5 linked regions of the Homo sapiens genome follow. The protein of the gene in region 1 purifies or fractionates together with the protein of each later gene. This does not show direct contact. Each region holds a gene or a part of one and is shown in the gene's direction. Other genes may lie near its edges.

Region 1 (4,660 bases):
TCCTGGCCCCCACAGATAGCTAATTAGGAAAGGAAGGGCCTTGCACACCCCTGATGTCTCAGGACCCCAGGGTTTGCAGCCCTGTGCCGCCCTGGGTGTTCTGAGTGTTCTGCTGTGAATGGTTGACATATTGTAAGCGATGCTTAGTTTAGAACTCTATTAAAATTTCCTTGATAAATCCCATAAATGAGAAGGCCTGGAAGCACATGCTCCTGTTCCTTTCAAGTTCAGGGCTCTTTGTTCTTTAGCCCCAGAGGACCTGTTTGTTTTCTTCTTAGTCTATTTTGCAACCCAAATATATTTGTAGTTACAGGCAGTTAAAACTGAAGTTAGTGATACCCCTAATGAGGAATTAGCATTCCACATATGGGGGAAGTGATAACAGTGCCTGGGATTGCCCTCGAGTGGTTTGGGCACAGGCAGAGATGAAGCGGGCTTGGCTCGGGAGCTCACTGTTGAAGCTGGGTGCCGGCACGTGTGTTCGCTATTCTGCTCGTTCTTCGTGTGCGTGTTTGAAATGGCCCATTTAATAAATGAATTCAAGTTCTACAGATATCAAAAGTACTGGTTTTCACGAATCAGTGAAATTTAAATTTCAAGAAATGTATCCTTTCTTGAAATTTAAGTGTCAATTTAAGCTAGAATTGAACCTTGTTTTATTAGTAACCAACCATCCCAGTTGAACCCAGAAGTGTATTTCTCAAACTTTAATTTGTGATAAGATTTGATGAAGGGTGAACACGCGCAGAGCTCCTTCGAGGTCTTGTTCTTGTGGAGGTCCCGTGGGTGCTGCTGTAACTGGTGAAGCAGGGCTCGCTTTTTGTTAATAGAAACTGGATCTTCCTTTTGTAGCTGGAAGCTCAGCTTGATGATGCTGTTGCTGAGGCCTCCAAGGAGCGCAAGCTTCGTGAGCACAGCGAGAACTTCTGCAAGCAAATGGAAAGCGAGCTGGAGGCCCTCAAGGTAGTGCTGGGCGGGGGTCTCTGCCCTTAACTGAGAGGGATGCTTATCTTTGCTGACGCCACCACATGGAAGTCACCTTGTGTAATGTGTGGTCCGGGCCGAGTGTCACCCGAGGCTGTTCAGACAAGACCCACATGTGGAGAGGTGGGGGGTGTGACCCCTGCCTTCGTGACTGCTTTCATTTTTAAAGGCCAAGTTCATGTTTTTCCTTTGTTATATAAAAGTTTCAGGCAATTCACAGTAAGTCCTAGGAAACGAATATCTAATTGGCTCATTTCCTACTCCAGCCCCATCAATTCATAGCCTTCTTCACATCGTGGTATTCTAAATTCGGTGCAGTTGAGTTTTGGAAAAGCTCCTTAAAGCCCGTAGCCTGCTGCTGACTGGGGAAGAGACAGGCTGGCCATCAGTCGGGGCCCACTGGTGGGGCTGGAGGGTAGCAGGGAGGCCGCGGAGGGCGGGAGTGGGGAAGGCCACAGTGGCCAAGTGGGCAAGGGGCCGGAGGCGGATCTCCTTGGCAGTATGGCGTGGCCTGGATCTCCTCATGTGTGAGCCGCGTGCGATGGGTCTGCCCTCTCCCTTCGCCTCAGTGATCTGGCAACTCTTCCTCTGGGACGTGGGCCTGAGATGCTGTTCCTCCCTGGCAGCGGGCTTGGCTGGACCTCGGCATGTGGTGCCCGAGGCTCCTGCCCCTTTCTCAGCCCTTGAGTCTCCTCTCTGCACAGCAGGCAGAGTGAGCTTGGCAGACCAAAGCCGGATCACATTCCTGTGCGGCAGGGCCTCCGTGGCTCCGCAGCTGTCCAGCAGCTACCCTCCTGCCTGCTCCAGCCCAGCAGTGCCTCTCCTGCCCCTCCTTGCCCCGCCACACCAGACACACTGGCCTCTCTGCATGCTGCAAACACTGCCAACACGTCCCACCTCACTCCAGCCTGTGCCCTTGTTCTTTGCCCCTAGCCTGACACCTCACTTAATAGGCCAGCACCTTACAGAAGCCGCCCCAGCCATCCTGGCACGCCCTCCACTCCCTACAACCTGGCTGGGGTGCACGGCCCCTCTGCCCCTTTACTGGTTTGCTGTCAGTTCCCGCCAGCCCCAAGAGAGCAGAGACCTCAGTGTCACCCCAGTCACAAGGAGGGGGCCCAGCACAGAGTCAGCCCTCAGAAGAATGCTGCAAGCATGAATGAACAGGGTGTGGGGCAGAGCTTCGGGGGTCCCAGGCAGACCTGGGCACATCCCCCTGCAAGGCCGTCTCCTGCTGTGACCCCCTAGAACCTGGATCACGTTAGCCAGGTCAGCTACGTCATCTGGTGTAGACCAGGCACACACAGTCCTTGGGAAGGTGTCTGCACTTGCTTGGGATGAAAGGGGTTGAAAGGACAGTGTGACCCTTGAGGACACAGAGGTTTGTCAATTTATGTTAACCTTTGTCTTCAGGTGAAGCAAGGAGGCCGGGGAGCGGGTGCCACCTTAGAGCACCAGCAAGAGATTTCCAAAATCAAATCCGAGCTGGAGAAGAAAGTCTTATTTTATGAAGAGGAATTGGTCAGACGTGAGGCCTCCCATGTGCTAGAAGTGAAAAATGTGAAGAAGGAGGTGCATGATTCAGAAAGCCACCAGCTGGCCCTGCAGAAAGAAATCTTGATGTTAAAAGATAAGTTAGAAAAGTCAAAGCGAGAACGGTAGGTTTTCATGAGCTTCTCAGTTCAGAAGATGCAAGCTGATACCCACGCCATAGATACGAATATCAGTGAAGTTACGAGCTTTTAAAACTGTTTCTCGCTCACCTTGGCAGGCATAACGAGATGGAGGAGGCAGTAGGTACAATAAAAGATAAATACGAACGAGAAAGAGCGATGCTGTTTGATGAAAACAAGAAGCTAACTGCTGAAAATGAAAAGGTAATTAATTCAAAGTACCTGAGTTAGCACTTTGTGTGGAAGTTGTAATTTAAAAAAAAATTATTTTTAATTTGTGTGGGTACATAGTAGGTATATATATTTATGGGGGAGTAGAATGTCGTCATTCTTGAGTCTTGGAAGTTTGGTTTTTTTTTTTTGAGATGGAGTCTCGCTCTGTCGCTCAGGCTGGAGTGCAGTGACGCGATCTTGGCTCACTGCAACCTCTGCCTCCCAGGTTCATGCCATTCTCCCACCTCAGCCTCCCAAGTGGCTGGGACTACAGGCGTCTGCCACCACGCCTGGCTAAGTTTTTGTATTTTTAGTAGAGACGGGTTTTCACCGTGTTAGCCAGGATGGTCTCAATCTCCTGACCTCATGATCCACCCACCTCAGCCTCCCAAAGTGCTGGGATTACAGGCATGAGCCACTGCGCCGGCCGAAGTTTGGTGTCTTTTTACAGTGCAGTAATGTGCCATATAACGATGCTTCCATCAATGATAGACTGTGTGTACAACAGGCGTCCCGTACGATCATAATACTGTACTTTACTCTACCTCTTCTGTGTTGAGATACACAGATACTTAGCATTGTGCTACAGCCGCCGGCAGCGTCCCGCACAGCAACATGGTATGCAGGCTTGGGGCCTGGAATTGACAGGCTGTACCACAGGGCCTGGTGTGCGGCAGCCGCACCGTCTAGGCTTGCGTGAGTGCATTCACGCTGTGTGTGCAAGGACACGTTTCTCAGACCGTGTTCTTGCTGTTTCACTACACGTGACTGTTTTAATTTTTGAATGGAGTCATGTGTTTGGTCTTTTAAATAGGATGTTTGTATTCAGCGAAAAGATGCCAATTGCCTGAAGTCACTAGCTCCAGCTCCATCAGTTTAGGTTTAGATTTGAATTGAAATGTGACTTAAGCTAGATACAGTGAAAAAAATCCATATCATGAACTTAGTTTGGAAAAATCTCATGACGATTAAAGAAAACTTTCAGAGTCTTCAAAAGAACTTCCAGTGTTAAATCCAGCATACTTAAAGGATGCCCGATTAACAAGTTCTGTGGTGAAATTGTTTCATTTCAGCTCTGTTCCTTTGTGGATAAACTCACAGCTCAAAATAGACAGCTGGAGGATGAGCTGCAGGATCTGGCAGCCAAGAAGGAGTCAGTGGCCCACTGGGAAGCTCAGATTGCGGAAATCATTCAGTGGTACGTGCGCGGCCCCATTAGCGGCCGTGAATCCGCTCCCTGCTCAGTCCATGGGGTCTGCCCCGCCTCTTCTGCCTGATCCTGTGCTCCACGCCAGGCCGTGCCTCTCAGGCTGGGGTGCAGGTCTCACTGCTGTTCCCCAGAACTTCTCATGTCTGGGGCAGTGGTTCTGTTGGAATAGAGGTGGAGATACGCCCCCACCAACCCACTGAAGGACTTGGGGCAAACCGTTCACACCCCTTGCGTTCTCAGAGACAGGGGAGGCAGAGCCCTCCCAAAGCGGCTGCAGAAGCAGCAGGGAGACTTGGAGCGAGCTGGGACCTGGCCCTCCGCTCCTAAGGTGTGAAGTTGTAATTAAAAAAAGAGTTTTTATTTTTAATTTTTGTGGGTGCGTAGTAGGTATATATATTTATGGAGTAATAGAATTTTTTCATTCTTGAGTCTTGGAAGTTTGGTGTCTTTTTAAACTGCAGTCATGTGCAATGTAACGACGCATCCATCAATGAGATCCCGTGTATACAACGGGTACACTGCGGGCACTCTAGCTGACGTGACACTGTGTCACTGTGTGCCGAGGAAGGCGGGAACGTCC
Region 2 (4,660 bases), on another chromosome or scaffold:
GAGTTGGGTGCAGTGGCTCACGCCTGTTATCCCAGCACTTTGGGAGGCTGAGGAGGGTGGATCACCTGAGGTCAGGAGTTTGAGACCAGCCTGCCCAACATGGTGAAACACCGTCTCTACTAAAAATACAAAAATTAGCTGGGCGTGGGGGCAGGTGCCTGTAATCTCAGCTACTCGGGAGGCTGGGGCAGGAGAATCGCTTGAACCCAAGAGGCGGAGGTTGCAGTGAGCCAAGATCGCGACACTGAACTCCAGCCTGGGCAACAGGAGCAAAACTCCATTCCCCCACCAAAAAAAAAAAGAAATTATTCTAGACCTCGTCGTGAATCACCTTAGTAATATCATCAAGAATAAATCAAGGGCACATTTCTTTTGTTCTGTGTGTCCGGCTCTGTAAATATTTTAATATTTCTTCCACTTGAATACCTTTTTAGTTTTTCTGCCAAACTTGTGGTTTTATCTATGGAATTTTCTGTATATGTATAGTAGAAAGTGTTGCAATTTTTATTTCTCTGGGTAAAAAATTCCTATGGGTTTTATAAAATAGTTTATTGTACTTCTTAAGAATTAAGAGGAAAAGACAATTAAAAATGCAGTTACAGCAAAAGGTCAGAATACAATTTTCAGTCCTGCATATTTTCTGATATGTGGCATGGTGTTTCAAAAGTCATGTAACTTCACGATAGTATTTGAATTGAGTTTGTGTGTGATTGCTTAACATCTGTAAATTGTTAAGATAAGTTATTGCACAGGCCTACTTTAGTTTAGATTAGTTTGGAACACATCCCAGGGTATTTAATCAGGGTATAATCCTGCATAGTGCAATTTCTAAAAGGTGTGTTTGTGTGCTTTAAATAAATAGCATTTTTTTGTAGGCAAAGTTACGTCTTATCCTCTTTTCTAAAAAAAAATCTGTTAAAAATGACTCCCTACAGCACTCTTGTATTATCTATAGCTTCAGGCAAATATAATACTTAATACTGACTTCAAAAAATGTACTGTAGAGGTCTGCAATGTTTGGTATTAACTGTGTTGAAATGTATGACAATATTCTATTGTAATCTTATATATTTTTCTTTATAACTTATATGAGCAATTTATTTTTTATTTGTAAAATTTGTGGTATGATTAATTTGTAGAACTGAAAATAGAGACTGGGAGGTGATATTTTGATAAAAATAAATATTTTAACATTGCCATGGTTAATTTTACTTTCAGTTTGGAGGATGGATTGACTACACTTATAGTTAATTTAAAAATACAAATTTAAAAATGTTGTGGTGTACAAGGAAATAAGACATAGAAAAAGTTTGGAATTATACAGTATTTTACTAAATGTTAAAAACAAAAAAATTAACAAAGCATCACAGACTTAAATGAATACAAAGTATTTTAAGAATAGAATTTAAAATGCCTATGCTGTTTTGACATAGTCACTAATTGTAACCTTTTGAATAAACTGGAAATGAAATTAAATTGTAAAATTCAACTTATTTAATAATAATAAATTGTGTTTCTTTTAATTGATCTGGTAGCAGTTCTGCACATACTCAAAATTTGGAACATGCCCAAATCTGGCAGTTAGTTCTCATTGACCCATTTTTTGTAACGTTTAAAAATGTGAAGCAATCAAAATAAGATTGTGATAATAATTTCTAGAGAATATTCAAATGTAAAATGAAGAGTATCCTTTACCCTTCATCAGTATTATTGTGCTCCTTTCTGCTTCTTTATTTAGCTTTATTCAATTTTAGAAACTTTGTAATTGTAAATTTGTGTTTTCTGGTTTTTTAAAAACTGCATATTTATCCTAAGTATACCTTGATATTTCTGTAGAAAAGAACCTACTTGATTTTATTTTATTTCTTATTATTTATTTTGAGATGGAGTCTCGCTCTATCGTCCAGGCTGGAGAACAGTGGCGGGATCTCAGCTCACTGAAACCTCTGCCTTCCGGGTTCAAGTGATTCTTCTGCCTCAGCCTCCCAAGTAGCTGGGATTATAGGCATGCACCACCATGCCCGGCTAAGTTTTGTATTTTTAGTAGAGACGGGATTTCACCATGTTGGCCTGACTGATCTCGAACTCCTGACCTCAGAAGATCTGCTCCCCTCAGCCTCCCAAAGTGCTGGGATTACAGGTGTCAGCCACCACACCTGGCTGAAAAGAACCTACTTTAAATGATGATAATAAGTTGCTTACTATTAGTCTGAGAAATACAAATTTAACGTCTTCTTATTTGATGTAAAATAGTCAAAATTTCATACCAGTCTTGTTGAATTACATGATTTCAAACTTTCTTATTATGGTCTGTCAGCTAAAGAGACAAAAAACAAACCAACCAACCAAAACCTTCCCACCACACACGTCCTGTCCCCACTCAGGGTTCTGGGCAGAAGAGACTCAGTGTCACTGACTGTTCATGAAGGTCCTGGCCCTGGAGTACTGCACCTTTTAATGTTACCCTTAATATGTCCATGTTCAAACAATCAGGACTTCTGAGGGACCTACTCAGTAATAGATTTTGTAAAATATACCCTTATTTGGCTAGCACTTAAATTGAAGTTACTTTCCATAAAATCCTTATTTTGATATAGGTTTATGCAATGAATTGTTCATCTTGTTTGACATCTTAGTAGATGAGAATTCCGTAATATTGGTTATAATACTTTGTGTAGACATTATACCTAACTGCTTTTTTGAACCTAGTACACTTCATTTTATGACTGGGAAAGTCTAAATAAATCAATTAACCTTCATGAATTTTAAATTTTTTATAGCAAGTATTTCTCTTCAGTCTTAATTTTTCCTATATTATAATTCATTTGAGTTTTCTTTCCTGGAAAGCAGTTCTTAATTCACCTGCAGTATTTTCCTTTTAAAAAAGTGTATTACTTTTTTCCTGTCTTTTTCTTATTCTTATTTTAGCTTCATCTTATTCTATGGCTACAGTTACAGTTTTTCCCCATTTATCTGAATATTTTCAGTAGTTCATTTTCTTCATTTGACCTACTAAACAATGCTTCTTTTACTATTTTCTATTACTTATCAGTTAATGTTTCTACGATTTATTCATCCTGATGCAATATTTTTGAGTACATGTTGATTGAGTCAGTATTTGTGAAAAGGAAGCCTAGAGTTTGGTAATTAGTTTTTCCTGTGGAGGTAGTTTCTGAAGTAGAAACAAACACAAAACACCTGAAGTGCTTTTGGAGGCATGTAACTGAGGCAGCGATGTAAAGTCACAGCACAAAGAAACAGAGGTACTGAGGATATTTGAAAAGACAGCTCATGGAGCTGTTAGCACCTATCTTTGCCCTGTGACAGCTAGTCATTGCTGCTATTATTATTTTTTATTATGATAATCGTCCTCATTATTACATTCATTTTAAAGGTCATCAAATGGAGAACAGACATATAGTTTATTTTAAGTGGTGCTACATCTTATAATTTATCAGTGGATATGTTGCTAAATGATGGTTCCCCAATAGCTCTCCTTGGGGAACATTACATTGGAGTGGTCACATATGAATAAACTCAGAGTCACATTTATTGCTTTAGTAAATATGTGCATGGAAAATTATATTTTATAGCATAAATAAGCTTAAGGTTAGTTTATCACTAAGAAACTAGAGAAAATATACACATTGACCTTTTTTGTGTGCTTACTTTGTATGTTTCTTCTATGTGAATATTTTTAATATTGCCTTTAATTGTGGGTGATTTTTGAAAAGACAGACTTTTTAAAAATACTTGCAAGTACTGAGGTTTATGTATTTACGTACTGATTCTGTAGTTCCTGGTAACATTTTTCTTTTTTTTTCCTGGTAACATTTTTCTAATCAGTTAACTACCTTGCTTAGAACATTTTTGCTAACACTCCAGAGTCAATTATAAAAAATATGACAGATATATGGTAAAAGGAAATTCAGAATAATCAAATCAGAAATGCTGAGAAAAAACCTCTACTCTGGCTGCTGAGAGGCTCTCTAGTCTCAGACAAGTCCCTGTCTAGGCATTCATATATTTGACTGTGACTTGTGGGAGGACCATTTTCACAAGAAATTTGCAAGGATAAATATGAAAATGAATACTGTTCTTTTTTTCTTAAATATATTTTAAGATACTGAAAAATTATTTCCAAGAGGGCATAAAAATTTATATTGTTCTTTCTTCTTCAAATAGGTTATGTGGGTATGCAATTTATGTCGAAAGCAACAAGAAATCTTAACCAAATCTGGGGCATGGTTCTTTGGAAGTGGCCCTCAGCAGACAAGTCAGGATGGAACCCTGAGTGATACAGCTACAGGTGCTGGCTCTGAGGTACCAAGAGAAAAGAAAGCACGACTCCAAGAGCGATCGCGGTCTCAGACACCCCTAAGCACAGCAGCTGCCTCCTCCCAGGATGCTGCTCCTCCCAGCGCACCACCAGACAGGAGCAAAGGGGCTGAGCCCTCGCAGCAAGCCTTGGGGCCTGAACAGAAGCAGGCTTCATCCAGGTCTAGAAGTGAACCTCCTAGAGAGAGGTAATAGTTCTTTCACCCTGTAAGCAAAAGGCAAGATTTTGCTAGGAGAGCAAAGCCGTTTTCAAGAATTTAACTTCTATTACGAGGAATATGTGGAAGTAGTACTTCTCAGGCCCCACATGGAAAAACAAAAG
Region 3 (5,335 bases), on another chromosome or scaffold:
CTCATAAAAAAAAAAAAATTCATGCTAAGGTGTGAACCGAATGTCAAAATGCTTCCCACCCCTTCCTCTCCCTTACTCCCACACAGGCAGACTGGTCACTCTCCTGAAGACACCCACCGTTTACATAAGTGAATGAATAAATACCTGACATCCAGAAATGTGACTAGGTAATTAGTAGAAGGTGAGGCACAGTGAAGAGGCGGAAAATTCTGGGCAGTGGGTGGGGTGGGAAGCCTGGGTGCTGTCAATCACACCGCCTGCACTAAAGCTTCTTCATATCAGTCTCACCCACTTGCAACCGTCCAGGGAGAATATTGTGCCAATTTCAAAGACACTGCTTCTGGGGTGGGCTCTAGGAGGTGGTAAAGGGTATAAAACAACCCAAAGTGCAGGGCTCTTTTATGTTGGGTGTCTGAAGTGCTCAGAACACTTTATAATTTTGATCCCCTTGAATGTAGCTAGAAAATTAAATCCCTTTATAATTAAAGCCAATAATGAATGGGCATTAAAGTTATCCAATCTATACACTGCATTAGTTTTTAATCTGCGGTTGGGCTGTAGCGTTTACTTCTTGATCTTTTCTATCTCTAATCTGGTTATAACTGCCTGTCATTTTTACTTTTCCTGGGAGGGGCAGAGTCTCTCTCTCTCTTCTCTTTTCCTCTGAGGTGTGCGTCGTGTTTATTTTTGCCTGAGCTGATGGATAATTTCCGAGATTTAATCCCTTTCTCTGGTTTCCTGACATTTCCACTTAGAGTTACTCTTGTGTTTATGGCCAGAATGAAAGGCATGTTTACTAGTGTTTTGAAGTTTCAAAAGTGGGTCTGGCGTTCTTGCTGACTGCTGCGGGTACTGCTGGACAAGGCCGTGCTGAGAAGGCCAGCGCGCCCGGCGGCAAGGAGCGACCTGCCCGGGTCTGGGGCCCCCAGCCGCCCCCCGCGGCGAGTGGGAGGCAGCAGGAGGCGGGCTGGATTCCGCCCTCGGGGAGGGCCGGGGGTCCTGGGACCAGAGCCAGGCCTCCTGCCCTCGACGTCCTGCCGGTTGTGAGCCAGAGCCTCGGTACCCCCACCCCCTGCAACGGCCTGCTTCGTGGGATCTGAAGCTGGGCCGCCCCCTGGGCAGGGCAGGGATCGGTGAGGCAAGGAGCTGAGGAGCGCTGGCAGGTAAGGGGGAAGTCTGGAGCCGGGTTGGAGGTGAGCGGGCGTTGAGGGGTGGGACAGAGGGAGTGGAGACGGGGCTGGGGGCGAGCCAGTGAACTGGGGGTGGCACAGAGGAGGTGGGAGCAGAGATGGGGGTGATCCGGAAGCCTGGGGTGGGGGGTGAGTGGGTTCGGAGCTGAGGGTGAGCCAGTGAGCTGAGGGTGGCACAGAGGGCGTGGGGGCGGAACTGGGGGTGAGCCGGGAAGCTGGGGGTTGGCACAGAGGAGGTGGGGACAGAGATGCGGGTGAGCCGGGAAGCTGGGGTTCGGGGTGGCGCGGGTGAGAGGGTTCGGAGCTAGGGGTGAGCCGGGAAGCTGGGAGGTGGTTCAGAGGAGGTGGGGACAGAGATGGGGGTGAACCGGGAAGCTGCGGGTCGCGGGGGGCTTAGTAGGTTCGGAGCTAGGGAGTGGCACAGAAGGGTTCGTGACGGGGCTGGAGGTGAGTCGGGGGGTTAGAGGGTAGTCACGCGGAGTTGGAGATGAATTAGGGCGCTGGAGGGGCGCGAGGGAGGAGGAGACCCGGGTGGAGGCGAGCCCGGCTGCTGGACGCGGACGCCACCCGGACCCGGGGCCCGCGCAGGGGCCTCGAGGAGAGGGGGCGGGGCCGGGGGGGCGTGGCGCGGGAGGGGAAGTGGGCGGGGCACCGCCGGGAAGGGGGCGGGCCGGGGGAAAGCCTTGGTTCGCTGCAGCGGGGCAGGCGCGTGGCCGGGCCGCGGCGCGATGAGTGGGGCCCGGGCGGCGCCCGGGGCCGCGGGCAACGGCGCGGTCCGGGGGCTGCGGGTGGACGGGCTGCCCCCGCTGCCAAAGAGCTTGAGCGGGCTGCTGCACTCGGCGTCGGGCGGCGGCGCGTCTGGGGGCTGGCGGCACCTGGAGCGGCTGTACGCGCAGAAGTCGCGCATCCAGGACGAGCTGAGCCGCGGGGGCCCGGGCGGCGGCGGGGCCCGGGCGGCAGCGCTGCCCGCCAAGCCTCCCAACCTGGACGCCGCTCTGGCGCTGCTCCGCAAAGAGATGGTGAGTGGGGCTCCGCGAGCTGGGGCTCTTCCCGGCCGGGCTCGCCGTCCCGGGAAAGTTCGCGGGGACCGCGCTCTGTCCGGAAGTCCCCGCGCCCACCCGCCCTTTCGGGCTCCTCCGCCCCAGGCGCCGGCGCCGTCCTCCCAACGACCCCCATTTTTCTCGCGTGCTCCGTGCCCACGATTGGAACCCCCGCGGGAGAGCCCCGCGCGCAGAGGGCGGCTTTCTTATGCCCGGCGCCCTCAGTCCGGCCCCGCTGGCTCGGAAACCTGGGCGCCCGGAAGCGCTGTGCGGGGTTCGTGCCTGGCCTGGGGGCGGGGGCGGCCTTGTCACCTCTCCCCGAGTGAAACAGACCTTCCCGGTGGGGGAAAGGCTTTCACAGCGGCCCAACGGATTAACGCGATTGCGTTTTCCTACCACGAAGAGGACAACTTTTGTCCGCCGCCAGTGTAGACAGCAGATTGGAACAGCCCGGCCCCCTTTCCGGCGCCCCAGGCCGCGCGTCCGTGATCCGATTACCGCGGGATGGCCCCGGCGCACAGATGGCTGCGAAAGCAGACGCGCACCCCGGGCGAGGGAGGCGGCCGGGTCCCTCAGCCCCGCGAAGCTGATTGCCCAAACCCTCTTGAGAAAGGTGGGAGGTGGCTGTCCTCCCGGTCTGGGTGCTGTCCATGTGAGTTCTTCGCCTTGTGTCTAAGCTCCATACCATGGGCTCAGTGTTTCTCTGTGCTTGGGAAGTACATTAGCTGTTTGTGGACCAGAACACACATGATTTAGGGTGACGCTAAAAGTAGGACAAGGGCAGGGATTTAGGCAACAGCGAGTCTTTCCCCAGCTTTCTCGGCCAGGCGTAGGCCAGGCAAGAAGAAATCAAAAACTTTTCCTCTTTTCTACCATCTTACTGGCCCCCATCACCTCCTCCCAATCCCCTCGTTTTAAAAGCCTCCCTTTCCATTCACCTCGTCCAGGTTGTCTCCTTTCCCTATAGGTAAATTGTTAAGAAATCTAACATTAGGAAAGCTGCCTTTTCCCAAAACTAAATTTGCCAAAAAATAAATTGTTATAGGAATCTTTTAAATATGTATCTAGTGCATTTAAGATATTGTTTAGAAAAATTCAGGGTATGCATACTTTTTTTTCAGGAGCATTATCTGTTCTGAAAACTAAGACTTAATTGAATTCAGAAAGCAGCCTTAACACTTTTAATCAAAGAGATATTGTCTTCCTACTCTGTAGCTGGCATTGAAGTGATTTCCAATTCTCACTGAAAAGATTTTCTAAGCTTCTTACAGAACCACTTAAATTCCAAGCCAACCGTTTTTAATTTATTAAAAAACATTCATTGACATAAGCATCACACAGCTGGTGAACTGCATTTTAATTAGATAAATCTACACGTAGTGTGTTTACAGTCTGAACTTGGACATAGCAGAACCACGGGGGTGAAGTAGGAAGATCATCTTTGATTATTTAAATTCCATACTTGAGCAAGAGATAGAAAAACCTCGGGGCCGCTCCTGTTGTGAAGCTGTGGTTTATAAACATGCTCTGGAGTCTTGCTATGGTGGCTTGGGAGTCAACGTGCCATTCCCAGAAGTATTTTTCCAGGTCCCTCCTGGTGTGACTGAAGCACAACCACATCCGTATAATTACGCCTTGGACCAGAGCTCTCTGTAAGCCTATTTGAAGCACAAGAAAAATAAACAGCCATCTTTGGTCTGCCTGGTATTTAGCTGAGATAAAGATAAGATATGGCTGCAGGTTTTGACAAGTTCCTTTCAAGAAATGTCACAAGGCCTTTAAAGTTGCCCAGAGAATCTTTCGGCTTTTTAATTGATTTACTGACTTGGGGCCATGGGGTCTGAGTGGACAACTCAAGCTGAGACTCCCTCTGGGGAGGCCTTGCAAAACAAGAACTGGGAGTTCATTCCTGAGATATCTGCAAAATAGTTTGTGTTGATCTGTTTAAATTGAAGGCCTGACGTCAAATCTGTGGCAGGGGACATAACTAGATGTCATGGTAGAATGTGATAAATGCCTTAAAGAAATTTTTTTTTTTAAAGCAAGCATAGAAAGAGGGGCAACTTCTAATAGGGACAGGGAGCAGGGTGGTGTGGAAGACCTCAGAAGGCGACAGAATTTCGACAAGGGAAAGAGGCACCAGGAAGGTAGCTGCGGAGCTGGAACTGGGAGTGCGCCAGTTTGAAATGTGAGCAAGAAGGGCCTGGGCAGGTGGACCGAGTGGACTCTGAGAAGCCTGAGTAGCAAGGATGGGCATTCAGCAGGAGAATGGTATTATCCCAGTTGGACTTTGAAGAAATGAATTCTACAGCAGGGTGCAGAAGGGAGAGCTGGACTTTGGAGGCTCAACAGGAAGATGAGAGGTGTTCATGGGAGAGGTGATGGAGTCCCCAGCAGGGTAGGGGGCTTGCTAATGTGAAACAAGACTCATGTGGGAGACACTTTTCTGAAGCCGAAGCTGGAGGAATTACTGAGTCAAGGAAGATGATGAAAAGGGGATCAAAGATAACTTAAGCTTTTTCATGGAAAATGTAGCCAAGCAAAAAATTAAAAATTACAGTGCCAGCACCTAGAAATAATCACTTTTAGTATTTTGGGATATCTTCTGTTAGGTGCAATGTAAGTGCTTTCTATATAGTATCTTATTTAATGGTATAAATTCTCCATGAGATAGATACTCAAAGTCTGTTTTATATTAAAGAATTGGATGCTGAGAGTTGAACTCCCATAAGGTCACAGACCCTACCAGGTCTCTTTGGCTCCAAAGCCCTATTTAACCATTGCAGTCTGCTGTCTGTGCACATGCATGCACTCTCACACACACACACATACATATATACAACACATTGATCACATATATTTTGGTTTGCTTTTTGGGCTGCACATTGCAATTATTTTCCCAGTCAAGATATATTATAATGACTTCAGTGAGTGTGTAGTATACCACTGTATGGCAGTTAGCAAGGTTTTGAAGCTTAATAATCAATCACTGGTAAAGTGGGGTTCATTATGGCACTTGGGGAGTCAGGAGGAGTAGCTGCTTTAGGGAGGAAGGTAATTTGTCATCGCATCAGCTGAAGAGCATGTTAAACATTTCAGAATGTG
Region 4 (2,700 bases), on another chromosome or scaffold:
GAACATTATTTTTCATGCAAAGTTAAAAGCACATTGTGCCTCCTTTTGACCACTTGCCAAGTCCCTGTCTCTTTCAGACACAGACAAGCTTCATTTAAATTATTTCATCTGATCATTATCATTTATAACTTTATTGTTACTTCTTCATCAGTTTTTCCTTTTGAAAGGTGTATGAATTCATTACATTTTTATTCTAATGTATTATCTGTAGATTAGAAGATAAAATCAAGCATGTATCTGCCTATACTTTGTGAGTTCACCTGTCTTTATACTCAAAAGTGTCCCTTAATAGTGTCCTTCCCTGAAATAAATACCTAAGGGAGTGTAACAGTCTCTGGAGGACCACTTTGAGCCTTTGGAAGTTAAGGTTTCCTCAGCCACCTGCCGAACAGTTTCTCATGTGGTCCTATTATTTGTCTACTGAGACTTAATACTGAGCAATGTTTTGAAACAAGATTTCAAACTAATCTGGGTTGTAATACAGTTTATACCAGTGTATGCTCTAGACTTGGAAGATGTAGTATGTTTGATGTGGATTACCTATACTTATGTTCGTTTTGATACATTTTTAGCTTCTCATTATAAGGTGATTCATGCTTTAGTGAATTCTTCATAGATAGTATATATAAAAGTACATTTTAATAGAAAGCCAGGGTTTTAAGGAATTTCACATGTATAAGGTGGCTCCATAGCTTTATTTGTAAGTAGGCTGGATAAATGGTGCTTAAATGGTAATGTACTCCACTTCTTCCTATTGGAAGATTAACATTATTTACCAAGAAGGACTTAAGGGAGTAGGGGGCGCAGATTAGCATTGCTCAAGAGTATGTAAAAAAAAAAAAAAAAAAAAAGAACCAAACCACTGGAAATAATCAAATGCAAAAAGGTAACAAATTCATAACTGGAAAGCAAAGAGAAGAACAAGTATGATTTGGATGATAAAGCATTGTTTTAATGGTGAAAACTTCACAGATCACTAATGTTTCTAGAGGTTAACTTCAAGTGGGCAAGCTGGGGTTTTTAGGTAGTCAGTGGCCTAGTTCCTAAAGCCACAGTATAGGATCTGTTAAACTGAATGTCTGTTGAAAGTTTGTTTTAGCTGCTTGGAGGCTTCCTTTTAAGACAAACTGTATGTGATTAAGTTGTTTTGAGGGAACTGAAGAACCTGATGTAGCCCCTGGCCAGATAACTGCCTGATTTCTCAGATATTATTTCTCTGGGAAACATTCTACATAGCACAGGAGCTTAAGAGTGGCATTATCTTCTCGCCTTAATTTCCAGAGATTATTTCTGTACTGAGAATCCTGGAACTACTATGCTAGGAAATTTAAAGCTGCATGGTCTGTCTTGTTTTCATTTAATTATTGTGAATACCTAGAATCTTTCTTGGTCCTGATTTCTCTTGCTTAATCCAGTCTTTATCTCTAACTGCCCCTTATTTGATCACCATGTACTAGGAGCTCTGATAGCCAGCTCAGCTCCTAATCCTTGAGGCAACATTCTTTTTCTATTTGAACTTCAGTTCTGTCCTTGAATCCCGACTAGATATTTCTTGCCCTCTGGTCTCAGAATTCTCTTGGCTTTTATTCCTTGATCCACTTGCCAGTTTTATCACTTTACCCTTGTTCCTCATGGCTTCCCATCAAGCCATGGGTATTAGGTGACAGTGTAATTTATTAGATTCTGGTTTTGCCCAAATACTGGGCATGCTTTAATAATAACTGAACCATTTCATTATTTGGATAGGCATGGGTACCTTATCAAGCAGATTAAAAGGATATGGTACCCGTCCTTTAGAAAAGAACAGCTAAAACCTTGTTGTGGATTATGGATTTAGCCTAAAGAAAAATAATCTGGCATAAATTAAGAGTAAGAGAGAAGATTAATAGAAATTTCACTTCACATAACTTAAAACATGGCTATTTCAATAAAGGACTAAAGTTTCTCCTGGATCCCAGAATTCAACCTGTATTTATAAATGTATAATGTATTTAGCTACTTTTTGGTTTAAATGAACTTGTTGGGTTAGCTTGGTAAATGTTATAATTTTTACTATTTTCTACAAAGAAAATATTTTCTAATTTAAGTTGGAGCTATCTGTGCAGCAGTTTCTCTACAGTTGTGCATAAATGTTTTTACTATAAAATGAGCTAATGTATAAAATACTGCTGTATACCATAATAAAGATAGTAATACTTGATTTTAGTGGCTTTTGTTTTCTAAAATGAAAATAGCTTGAAATATTTATTATAAAAATAATAAAAGCTAGATATAAAAATCTAAAGAGAAAAAAAACCAGTCACCCTTATCTAATATTTTAGTGAGCAGTCTTCCACATGTTCATTTATAAAATTGGAATTATTTGATTTTGTGTATTGCTTTTCCCCCCTCAACATGTTGTGCACAATTTTGTACAGGCTTACATGGACATTTTTGATGACATGTTTTCTTGTATGGATATGCCACTACACATTTAACCAGTACTCGATGTCCATGTTGGTTATTTCTAATTTTTCACCATTATAAACAACCCTAAAGTTAATATCCTCACATATGTGTTTGCATACTCGTCTGTCACCTTAGGATACGTTTTCTAAAGGTAGAACTACAGCTTTGAACTCCTAGGCTCAAGTGATCTTCCCTCTCAGCCTCCCAAGTAGCTGAGACTACAGGGGGGTACCACCAAACCTGGCTAATATT
Region 5 (4,660 bases), on another chromosome or scaffold:
CTTAGACTCGTTGATTTGGTGTTTGATGAGCTGTACCAGATGGATGATGGATGGATGAACCTGAAAAGATGGATGAACTTGAAAAGGGGGTAGGAGGTTTTTCTCTCTAATGCTAATCTCTCCACATCTGTCTTTAGATTTGACTTGAAGACACTGCCTGTGGACTTTGTGGAATGCTTGATGCGGTTCCTACCAACTGAGAATGAAGTGAAAGTGCTTCGGCTCTACGAGCGGGAAAGGAAGCCTCTGGAAAACTTGTCAGATGAAGATCGGTTCATGATGCAGTTTAGTAAAATCGAGAGGCTCATGCAGAAGATGACCATCATGGCCTTCATTGGGAACTTTGCTGAAAGCATTCAGATGCTGACTCCTGTGAGTGGACTGACTCTGGCAGGGGAGGGGGTCCAAAGAAATGTGGAATCGTTATTTTTTAAAGTCTCTCCCAGAATCGTACTCAGTGTGATGGGTTCTAAAGACTCCTTCCCAGAACTTTCTAAATTGCATTTTTATTTCAACCATCTTTTCCACATTATGTATGCAAAGTAAATTTGAAAAATGGGGAATGTTCATATTCCATATTGCCATTCTTCCGAAAGAATGCCATTTTTTGTGTCTACAGATGTTCTCTAGATTTCAAAAGGACAGGGGACAAAGAAACTTGGTTCTTTTCTCAAACTTGGTTCCTCTCTGAAGATACTAGTCTTCTGGCAGTGTTGGCAAGACTGAAAATAAGACTTTCATTTCTAAAAATGTTGCCTCATCTTTAGTGAGCAGACTTACAAGCTTTTGCTGAAAGCTTTATATTTACCATAAGAGTTTTCTTTCTTGGAAGTTTGTTATAATAAACTGTGGTGATATAGACATAATAGCCAACCATCTCTCATTCCCTTGTGTTAATCTGGTGGAGATTTATGAATATCATAAACTTCAGTTCTCTCCCAATTCTGTTTCTAAATAGACTTTGTTACTGATTATAGTAGTCAGTTCTTTCCCAATTCTGTTTCTAGATAAATTTGTTGGTTTCTGCTTATAGTAGTATGTCTGTTGAAAACATGTTCTGAGAACTTCTGGAGGGTGTTATATTCCCCTCCCTTTTTTTTCATTTTTGATGCCTCCTTCATTGATTTAAAAATATTAATTGTATGACATGATTAGAGGTGGTAGGCAGGAAATTGAGTTCTACCAGAAGCAGCTGTGGACTCTTAACTCTGAGTCTTAGTGGTTGTAGATTGGTTACAGATTTTGTGATAAGCAAGTTCCTATGTTACTTGCTATTGTGAACAGTTTCAGTAAAGATCGTGCATGTAACAATATTACCTGAGACCTAGCAAGACAATTAAATTTGTTATACTTAGAAAAAGTAGACTCTCACCATGAAGCCTGTATGCTCTAAATGCAGGCCTGTTTTCTTCTGTCTTAATATTTACTTGCCAATTAGTTTCCCATTTTTAACATGTCTTTTTTCCCCTTTTTCTTTCTTTGATTGGAATCTAGCAACTACATGCGATTATAGCAGCATCTGTCTCTATAAAGTCGTCCCAAAAACTCAAGAAAATTCTGGAGGCAAGTGCAGTTTTTCTTGTAGGTATGAAGGACTACTTCAGCTGCGTTCAGTGCCTGATGTGCTGTACTGATGGGCTTCTGTTTTCACCTTCTTTTGCAGATCATCTTAGCCCTTGGAAACTACATGAATAGCAGTAAAAGAGGAGCAGTTTATGGATTTAAACTTCAGAGTTTAGATCTGGTGAGTGGACTAAAAGAAATTTGAGAGCTGTTTGAAGGACAGATGGCTGGCAGAGATGAAGTTAGGGTGGTGGAGGATGTTTTGATGAATATTTTCTGCTATGGGAGGATCAACTGGTACTAATTTTCTGGAACACCATTTGACAGAGAGCACATAGAACCTATAATTACTCATACCCTTTGACTCAGTATTTCCATTTCTAGGAATTTTTTCTCAAGTGTCTGAATTTTGAATCCTGTATTTTATTTATAATTGCAAATTAACAATCTAAAGGTCTAACTGTGGGAATGATTAAATGTGCTGTAACACTAGTTAATACAGTGAACTATTATTCTTCCACCGTTAGCATACTGATGAAGAGTGTCCCAAGAAAGATTTGTGTTTAGAAAAGAAAGCAGGGTATGCTTTGCATGTACAGTTGAATCTCAGCTAAGTAAACTATGTGGGGAGAAAGACTGAATGGAAATAGGTTAAAATATTAGCAGAGGTTGGATGGAATCAGGAAATTTTTTCAAACTGCTTTTTGTAAGTACTTTTCTATATTTTCTTAAATTTTTGTTGTTGTTGTTGCATGCAGGGTGCTCTAATTTTCAGAGTCACCTAACTAATGTGAATAAGACTAGAGAAAATCCTCCGTGGACTCCCTCCAGACTGTGCAGGCCTAACGTGATTGTCACATGAGAAGGCTGGGCAGTGGGTTGAGTCCCCCGACCAGGGAGCTAGTTATTTAATATGGAGTGTCTAGTCAGTCACAGTTCTGGCCTCCAGCAGATCATGATCAGTTAAGCATGTCTGTTTCAGGTCTTCACAGGCTAGGAAATAAGGGAGGGCCTAAGCTAAATGTAAAAACTGGAGCATAGGAGCCCTGCTGTGTAGGAGGCACCTGCATGCACCTGCTGGCTGTACATCCCCATTTCTCCTCTGGCTTTTTACTTTGAAGAGCACTAAAATTAGAGCCGTCCTGCTTTTAAGGCAAGGAAGGTGGGATAGCAGATGCAGGGCTGGGAGAGTTCATGTAATCAGTGTCCCCCTTATCCATGGGGGCTGTGATCCAAGACCCCCAGTGGATGCCTGAAACCTCAGATAGTACTGAATCCTATATATACACTGTTTTTTTTCTAGAGATGCATATCTGTTATAAAGTTGAATTTATAAATTAGGCACAGTGAGAGATTCACAATAACTAAAAAATAAAATAGGCCAGGCCTGGTGGCTCACACCTGTAATCCCAGCACTTTGGGAGGCTGAGGCGGGAGGATCACCTGAGGTCAGGAGTTTGAGAGCAGCCTGGCCAACATGGCGAAACCCTGTCTCTACTAAAAATAGGAAAATTAGCTGGGCTAATTTTTGGGTCACAGGCACCTGTAATCCCAGCTACTCGGGAGGCTGAGGCAGGAGAATCGCTTGAACGCAGGAGGTGGAGTTTGTAGTGAGCCAAGATTGTGCCACTGCACTCCACCCTGGGCGACAGAACGAGACTCCATCTCAAAAAAAAAAAAAAAAAAAAAAATAGAGCAGTTAAATAAAACACGTTACTTGAACACAAACACTGCAATAGGCGGCAGTTAACCTGATAACCCAGATGGCTACTAAGTGATTAATGGCAGGTAATGATTACAGCGTGGATCCACTTGACAAAGGGGTGATTCTCGGTCTAGGGTGGATGGGAATGGCACGTGCGAGGTTTTATCATGCTGCTCAGAGTGGTGCGCAATTCAAATCTGATGAATTGTTTATTTCTGGAATTTTCCACTTAGTATTTTTGGATACCTGAAACCTGTGGGTTTCCTGAAACCATGGGAAGTAAACCTGTGGGTAAATAGGAACTACTGTAGAGGAAAGCTGCGAATCATTCTTAGGTGCTTAGAGTCATCCCTATAGTTAAGCATGTGCCCTGGTTGGAAAGTCCTTGAGCCAGTTAAGCATCAATGGACTGGTTCACTAAGGAACAAATGGAATCCTGACCCTCCTCTGGGAATGCTCCAGCCTGTTGGGCGACTGTTACTCAGTTAATGACTCTGGGTGGGAAATCGTCACCTGAGGGGTAAGTGTCTTGTTACCCTTTACTCTTGTACCTAACCCACGTTCCCTTTTGTTTTCAGCTCTTAGATACAAAGTCAACAGACAGAAAGCAAACACTGTTGCACTATATATCCAATGTGGTGAAAGAAAAATATCACCAAGTGTCCCTGTTTTATAATGAGCTTCATTATGTGGAAAAAGCTGCTGCAGGTACTTGATTTCAGCTATTACCGTTCGTCTTGGGTATTTAATGCCTTTAATTGTGGTGGAGCCATTCCCTGCTTAAACACTTTTCAGAACCCATTTAAAAAGCCAAGGCTAAGAAGTCAGACACACTGAGCTGGAACACATCGGCCGTGGTGTTGTCCACCCCTGAGAGCAGAAGAGCACATGGGTGTAAAGGTGATCTCTGTGTCCTTTCTGTAAGACACAGGCCACTGAGCGTCATGTCCCTTCCCTCTTTTATTCACTGCCCTTTTTATTCTGCTGCTATTGTATGAAATGTGAGAATGAGAATCTGAGAATCATCACCCAACAAACACTTTTAATTTGATTTTGTGCCATTCTACTTGCTCAAGTGTGGCAGTTGTAAACATTTTGCCTTTGCCTGGACACTAGTTAAATTATTAGCACTTCTTGGTTGCTACTTTGCTAAGACAGTTATACATTTTGTCATTTAAATCATCTGTGACTCTAAGATAGCTGGGATGTACAAGGTAATAGTATCTCCATTATTATAGGTGAGAAAATTGAGATTTTTCGAGGTTAAATGTCTTGCCCAAAGTCACATGAGTAGAAAGTGATAGAAACAGGACTAGAAACCTGGTCTTACTTCTCATGAAGTGTATTATCCAATGTACCATGTTCCCTCAAAAGCATATTCGATTAGCAAAA

What was found.
Region 2: the proteins of CDC42BPB (region 1) and RIMS1 purify together in Homo sapiens (co-immunoprecipitation; one large-scale study listed by IntAct). This does not show direct contact.
Region 3: the proteins of CDC42BPB (region 1) and FAM89A purify together in Homo sapiens (affinity purification with mass spectrometry; one large-scale study listed by BioGRID and IntAct). This does not show direct contact.
Region 4: the proteins of CDC42BPB (region 1) and DDX21 purify together in Homo sapiens (co-immunoprecipitation; one large-scale study listed by IntAct). This does not show direct contact.
Region 5: the proteins of CDC42BPB (region 1) and FMNL2 purify together in Homo sapiens (affinity purification with western blotting, with the first as the bait; one study listed by BioGRID). This does not show direct contact.

Annotation. Positions count from the first base shown.
Region 1 is NC_000014.9:102,966,454-102,971,113, reverse strand, and holds part of CDC42BPB (serine/threonine-protein kinase MRCK beta), read left to right. Parts: intron 1-852; coding exon 853-963; intron 964-2,397; coding exon 2,398-2,642; intron 2,643-2,755; coding exon 2,756-2,861; intron 2,862-3,943; coding exon 3,944-4,068; intron 4,069-4,660. UniProt on the Homo sapiens protein: Serine/threonine-protein kinase which is an important downstream effector of CDC42 and plays a role in the regulation of cytoskeleton reorganization and cell migration. Regulates actin cytoskeletal reorganization via phosphorylation of PPP1R12C and MYL9/MLC2.
Region 2 is NC_000006.12:72,175,390-72,180,049, forward strand, and holds part of RIMS1 (regulating synaptic membrane exocytosis protein 1), read left to right. Parts: intron 1-4,185; coding exon 4,186-4,526; intron 4,527-4,660. UniProt on the Homo sapiens protein: Rab effector involved in exocytosis. May act as scaffold protein that regulates neurotransmitter release at the active zone.
Region 3 is NC_000001.11:231,036,795-231,042,129, reverse strand, and holds the start of FAM89A (protein FAM89A), read left to right. Parts: upstream 1-1,875; 5' UTR 1,876-1,918; coding exon 1,919-2,209; intron 2,210-5,335.
Region 4 is NC_000010.11:68,982,869-68,985,568, forward strand, and holds the end of DDX21 (nucleolar RNA helicase 2), read left to right. Parts: 3' UTR 1-2,200; downstream 2,201-2,700.
Region 5 is NC_000002.12:152,628,162-152,632,821, forward strand, and holds part of FMNL2 (formin-like protein 2), read left to right. Parts: intron 1-137; coding exon 138-372; intron 373-1,494; coding exon 1,495-1,563; intron 1,564-1,663; coding exon 1,664-1,744; intron 1,745-3,846; coding exon 3,847-3,976; intron 3,977-4,660. UniProt on the Homo sapiens protein: Plays a role in the regulation of cell morphology and cytoskeletal organization. Required in the cortical actin filament dynamics.